Regions from separate parts of the Homo sapiens genome. Here region 2 is linked to region 1. The links come from fine-mapping of genetic effects on gene expression. A gene starts in region 1. The other region holds a variant in brackets. All regions are shown on one strand. Distances are between the middles of the regions.

Evidence for each region.
Region 2: its variant is fine-mapped to the expression of GALNTL5 in prefrontal cortex (GTEx, PIP 0.90).

What each region holds. Positions count from the first base shown.
Region 1 is chr7:151,955,090-151,958,008 of GRCh38, reverse strand. GALNTL5 (polypeptide N-acetylgalactosaminyltransferase like 5) reads right to left here and starts at 1,563. Exons shown (of 9, transcript NM_145292.4): 1 at 1,400-1,563. It overlaps LOC105375571 (a long non-coding RNA gene), which reads left to right and starts at 1,664. Exons shown (of 2, transcript XR_928179.2): 1 at 1,664-1,758; 2 at 2,304-2,810.
Region 2 is chr7:151,997,853-152,000,771 of GRCh38, reverse strand. All of the region lies in intron 5 of GALNTL5 (polypeptide N-acetylgalactosaminyltransferase like 5), which reads right to left. Among named protein-coding and RNA genes, the nearest start is that of GALNT11, 26 kb to the left of the region's middle. The variant A/T (reference allele first, on the strand shown) is at 1,670.

The DNA of each region.
Region 1 (2,919 bases):
CAACCTCCTTAATTTTCTTATTTTACTAATATGAGTTCTTATATTATGTTTTCTCTGTGACAAGCACCTCACCTCCCAACCCACCCCCTATACTCCCACAAAACACAGAAAACCCCTCCTATCAAGAGATCGATGTAAGAGGTGTGTGATTGGCCTTTGGACTTTGTGTCTTCAGAAGAAAACCATGTTCAGTTATTTTCTTCACTAAAAGATGCAGAATTCAATGCTAGAAAAGCACAGAATTTGTAAAATATATTTCAACGAGGATTCATATGTACAGCAAATAAAATTTTAAGTGCATTAAAGAGACTTAGCAGATGATCAAAAGAATCCTGTAGAGAAAAGAATGCAGCTAATAGTCACCAACATGCCCCCACCAACACGCCAAAACCCTAGCCTAAATCTGCATTTACAGTCATTGAGTTTCTTTCTTTTTTTTTTTCTTTTCTTTTTTTTTTTTGAGACAGGGTCTCGCTCTGCTGCCCAGGTTGGGGTGCAGTGGCCCAATTACAGCTCACTGCAGCCTTGACTTCCCAGGCTCAAATGATCCTCCTCTTTCAGCCTCCCAAGTAGCTGGTACTACAGGCTGGTGAGTGCCACCACGCCTGTTTTTTTTTTTTTTTTTTAAATAGAGATGAGGTCTTGCTATGTTGCCCAGGCTGGTCTCAAACTCCTGAGCTCAAGTGATCCTTCTGCCTTGGCCCCCAAAAGTGCTGGGATTACAGGCATGAGCTACCATGCCTGGCCAAGTTTTTAAAAAAATACGAGTCTATTGAATCAGGAAAACATGACCATGCTTTAGATAATATCACAACTAATTCTTCTGTCAATAATCAACACTTTTTTTCCTTTTTTTTTTTTTTTTTCTCGAGACAGAGTCTCACTCTTTCATCCAAGCTGATCTTGAACTCCTGGACTCACATGGTCCTGCCACCTTAGCCTCCCAGGAGCTGGAATTACAGATGCCAGCTGCCGTGCCCAGTTTATAATCAGCATTTTTAACCCCTAGCTTTCCTAGGACCATCTTAATACTGATCTCCATATAAGATCTAGGACTTTATGACACTGCTAAGGGCCTTTATTTCCCTATTTTTTTCAAATAAGTAATACAGTCACTGTATAAACATTACCAGCATAAAGACACATGTAATGAAAAGTTTCCCTATTTTTCATGAACTAAAGCCATTACAATGCCCAGTCCACGTTTAGGGTGGTGTAACCAGCTAGGAGGCTACTCCTTCTTTAAAAAATAAAATAAATCTTCTTAAACCTAATCCCCAGAGCTAGCACCTCCTTCAAGACGCAGTGATTTGATGTACTGCTTCCGCTGATTCAAAGTGAAAGACGTTTCCCCCCATCTTTGTTCCCACTTCTAGCACATGGGGCTCACTTCACCTACCCTTGAGATAATTGCATTGGCTGCTTTGTAACTGATGAATTTTCCAAGCAGAGTCACAGCTGAATGAGGCAGGGGTCTGTGCCGAATGAACTGAGAGATGTAAAATTTTTTTTAGCTAGCAGGCTTTATGGTGGCTGGGTTCCAAGCAGATACCTGGTTGTGCTGGGTTGCGGGGCCACACAGTAGTACTCAAAGGGCAGTACAGTCCCCCTCACAAAGCCTGATGACATCACACAGGGCGTCACAGCCCCACAGGGGCCCCTGCCTGTAAGCTCCAACCAGCAGGTGGAATCCAGGAGTTCCAAGGTCCTAAGGGTCCTTACCCCTCAGCTGAGAAAATAGGGAAAGCCTCATATTAGGTGAGGCTAGAATCCAGGGTGACTCTCTTCTCTAGGCAAGGCCTAATTTTTAGCTTTTTATATTTATTTATTTATTTATTTATTTATTTATTTATTTATTTATTTATTTATTTTTGAGATGGAGTCTCGCTCTGTCCCCCAGGATGGAGTGCAGTGGTGCAATCTCTGCAATCTCTGCGATCTCCGCTCACTGCAAGCTCCGCCTCCCGGGTTCACGCCATTCTCCTGTCTCAGCCTCCGGAGTAGCTGGGACTACAGGCGCCCACCACCACGCCCGGCTAATTTTTTGTATTTTTAATAGAGATGGGGTTTCACCGTGTTAGCCAGGATGGTCTCCATCTCCGGACCTCGTGATCGGCCCGACTCGGCCTCCCAAAGTGCTGGGATTACAGGCGTGAGCCACCGCGCCCGGCTAATTTTTAGCATTTTTGAAATAAACTTAAGAAAAAGAACAAGCTTTCAGAAAACATGAAGAAACTTAAAGATGAGCCAAAGGGTTATTTGATTGCCTTTTAATTCTTTACTCTACGTTACTCAACATTTAGATGTCAGTACACAAGTTCAGCCAAATGCTTGTGAAATTTCTTCTGAACGCATCCCAGGAGACTTGACCCTCCCCGCTTCAGGATGCTGACTCTGTTTTGCCTGAAACCAGACAAGCTCTGCTTCAGGGTCTGTGAGTGGAAGGGGGTGGGTGGGAACCTCTCGCAACCTCTCCTGGGACAGACACAATGGGCAATCGTGACCTCCTGGGGTAGATACTGAAACTGTGACAAGTGATAACAAAACTGGCAGAAATCAGTTGGACCCAATATGGCCAACTGGAGTTTCTGCAGAAAGAGCTTGCTGATATCACAGCCTGAATTTCCACGCATGTTTCGTATTAACTGCCCCGGAATTTGATTTGCACACAGCACCCATGAGGAAGCATGAAGAGATAACTGCGCATGTCTGAGGACTTGCCAGACCTCCTCTTTCCTTCCACCGATCTCCTGCTAATCCCGGAACCCACCCTCTAACCCTTTTCTAATAAAATTATTTCCTTAAAGGCAGCACAGCGAGACAGATTTGAGCTGGACTCCTGTCTCCGTGTTGGTCAATTTGCAATGAAAAGCTTTTCTTTTCTCTGAAACCCAGTGTCTTAGTATTTATTGGCTTCTA
Region 2 (2,919 bases), 43 kb before region 1:
AAAAAGACAACCTGATTTAAAATGCGCAAGAGATTTGAATAGACATCTTTGCAAAGACGTATAAATGGCTGATGAGCATGTGAAAAGATGTTCAACACCATTAGTCATCAGAAAAACGTTAATAAAAATCACAGTGAGGTATCCCTTTACATCCACTAGGACGGCAAGAATGAAAAAGACAGACAATAGCAAGTGTTGGGGAGGTGGTGGAGAAATTGAAACACTTGTCCAGTGCTGTTGGGAATGATGGGTGGGAGGGGAGGAGTACAGAGAACAGGAAAGTTCTCTCTTGCCTGAAGGGCACTCTCTGGGCTGAGTTCTCTGAGGGTGTGTGGCTGGCAATAGCAACTTTGAGGACCTCCCTTCTCATCCCTGGTGGTCTCTGGTCAGCAGTTCCCACAAACTGGGCAAGTGCATTCTATTCTGGTGACTCAATCTGTCTTCTCAGCTCCTTAAGATCCTGTGTTCTGTCTCCAGCTTCTCTGCTGAGGCCTGTCCATTCTTCTAGATAGTCCTACCGGACACCATCTAAGATGATCCCTATAGCTCTCTCTCCAACACTGCCAAAGCAAACTCTGCCATAAATACAGCTACTAATCTAAAAGCAAGTGTCCTTTGTTCTACAGCTGGTCACAGTCTTTTTATCCTTTTGATTTTCGGCAGAAAACTAACATTAGTTCACTTCTCCTCAATCCCAATATATTTCCAATTTTATTGTATTGATGTCTGAGAATGTGCTGAATTCATATCAAGTCTCTCTCACCAGGCTTTGAGCAGTAGCTTTCTCCAAAAATCTCCTTTAATCTCTAACAACATGACTCAATCTGGCTGAGCCATCTCATTGGTTCTCAGATCTCTATTTTGAAATATCTTTATCGTGGTCAGTCTAACAACTCACTTTGGAATATTACAGCTATGATTTTCATGCCTCAACCAAAACTGAGCTAACAAGAGTCCCATTTTTAACACATATGTTTTCATACTATTGGCAGCACACACACAGCTTTATACTTCACATTTTTCACCTAAAATAGCTTCTATAATATTACGTAACATTATTAGCATTTTAAAATCATGTCTGCTCATTTGATAGGTGAAAAATAACATCTGGTTCTCCTAAGAAGATGTACGAATGGCTAGCAAGCACACAAACAGATGCGAAACATCATGTCATTAGGAAAACACAAATCAAAACCAACGTGAAGAACCACTTCACTTCCACTAGGATGACGAGAACTTAAAAAATGAAAAATAAGTTTTGGCAGGGATATGGAGAAATTTGAACTCTTACACATTGCTGGTGGGAGTGTAAATGGTGCAGCCACTGAAGAAAAGAGCTTGGCAGCTCCTCAAAAAATTAAACCTGGAATTACCATAAGACCCAGCAATTCTATTCCTAGGAACATGCCCAAAAGAATTCAAACAAATGTATATATGTGCATGGTCACAGCAGTACTGTTGACAACAGCCAAAAGAGGGAAACAGCCCAAATGCCCATCAATGGATGAATGGAGAAACAAACTGTGGTGTATCACAGAATGGAATATTATTCAACCATAAAAAAGGAAGCACTGACACATCCACCATGTGGATGAACCTCAAAAATATACTAAGTGAAAGAAGCCCGACACAAAAAGTTACATATTGTATGATTCCGTTGATATGAAAT[A/T]TCTAGAAAGAGACAGAACACAGATAGGTGGTTGCCAGAGACTGGAGGGAAGGAAGCTGCTTAATGGCTAAAAGACTTTCTTTTCAGGTAATGAAAATGTTTTGGAGTTAGAGGTCATGGCTGTACAACATTGTGAAGGTGCGAAATGCTACTTAATTGTTCATTTTTAAATGATCAGTTTTATGTTAATCGTGCCTCAATTTTAAAAAATCTGGTTAATTTTTTTTTAATCGCTGGTGAGGTTGAATTTTCCACATGATTAGCCATTTGTAAATGAAATTGTCGTGTACTTTGCCTATCGGAGTAGTTTTGTTTTTTGTTTTTTTTTTTTTAGATAGAGTCTCGCTCTGTCACCCAGGCTGGAGTGCAGTAGCATGATCTCAGCTCACTGCAACATTCACCTCCTGGCTTCAAGCAATTGTCCTGCTTCAGCCTCCCAAGTAGCTGGGATTACAGGCACCTGCCAACATGTCCAGCTAATTTTTGTATTTTTAGTGGAGATGGGGTTTCACCGTGTTGGCCAGGCTGGTCTCAAACTTCTGACTTCAAATGATCTACCTGCCTCAGCCTTCCAAAGTGCTGGGATTATGGGCGTGAGCCACCATGCCCAGCTTGGAGTTGTATTTTTAATGGATTTTAAATGTACATTTTACATACTAAAAATATTAACTTTTAGTCCTGTTACATTTCCCCAGCCTACTGTTATTTAATTTTATTATTTTTTATTTGCAGCAATTTTACATTTTTTTGTTAAAAAAATAGACTTTTTTTTAGCACCTTTTCCATTGGTTTTAAGCTTTGAAATTTCTTTATTCATAAAACAGGCAAGTATTAATCTATGTTTTTATATTTTTAAATTATCCCTTAAGAAGTTTGATGATGATGATGTTTTTACAGAGACAGTCTCACTCTGTTGCCCAGGCTGGAGTGGAGTGGTGCTATTATAGCTCACTATAACCTCCAACTCCTGGACTCAAGCGATCCTCTTGCCTCAGCCTCCTGAGTAGCTTAGGACTACAGGTGTGCACCAACACACTCGCCTACTTTTTTTAATAAAAATTTTTGTAGAGATGGTGTCTCACTGTGTTGTCAGGCTGGTCTTAGAACTCCTGGCCTCAAGCAATCCTCTTGCCTTGGCCTCCTAAAGCGCTAGGATTACAAGCATGAGCCACCACACCTGGCTATGGTTTGATTTTTTAAAATAAAATTAACATTAATCCAGTTATAATTTATTTGGGTTATGGTATGAA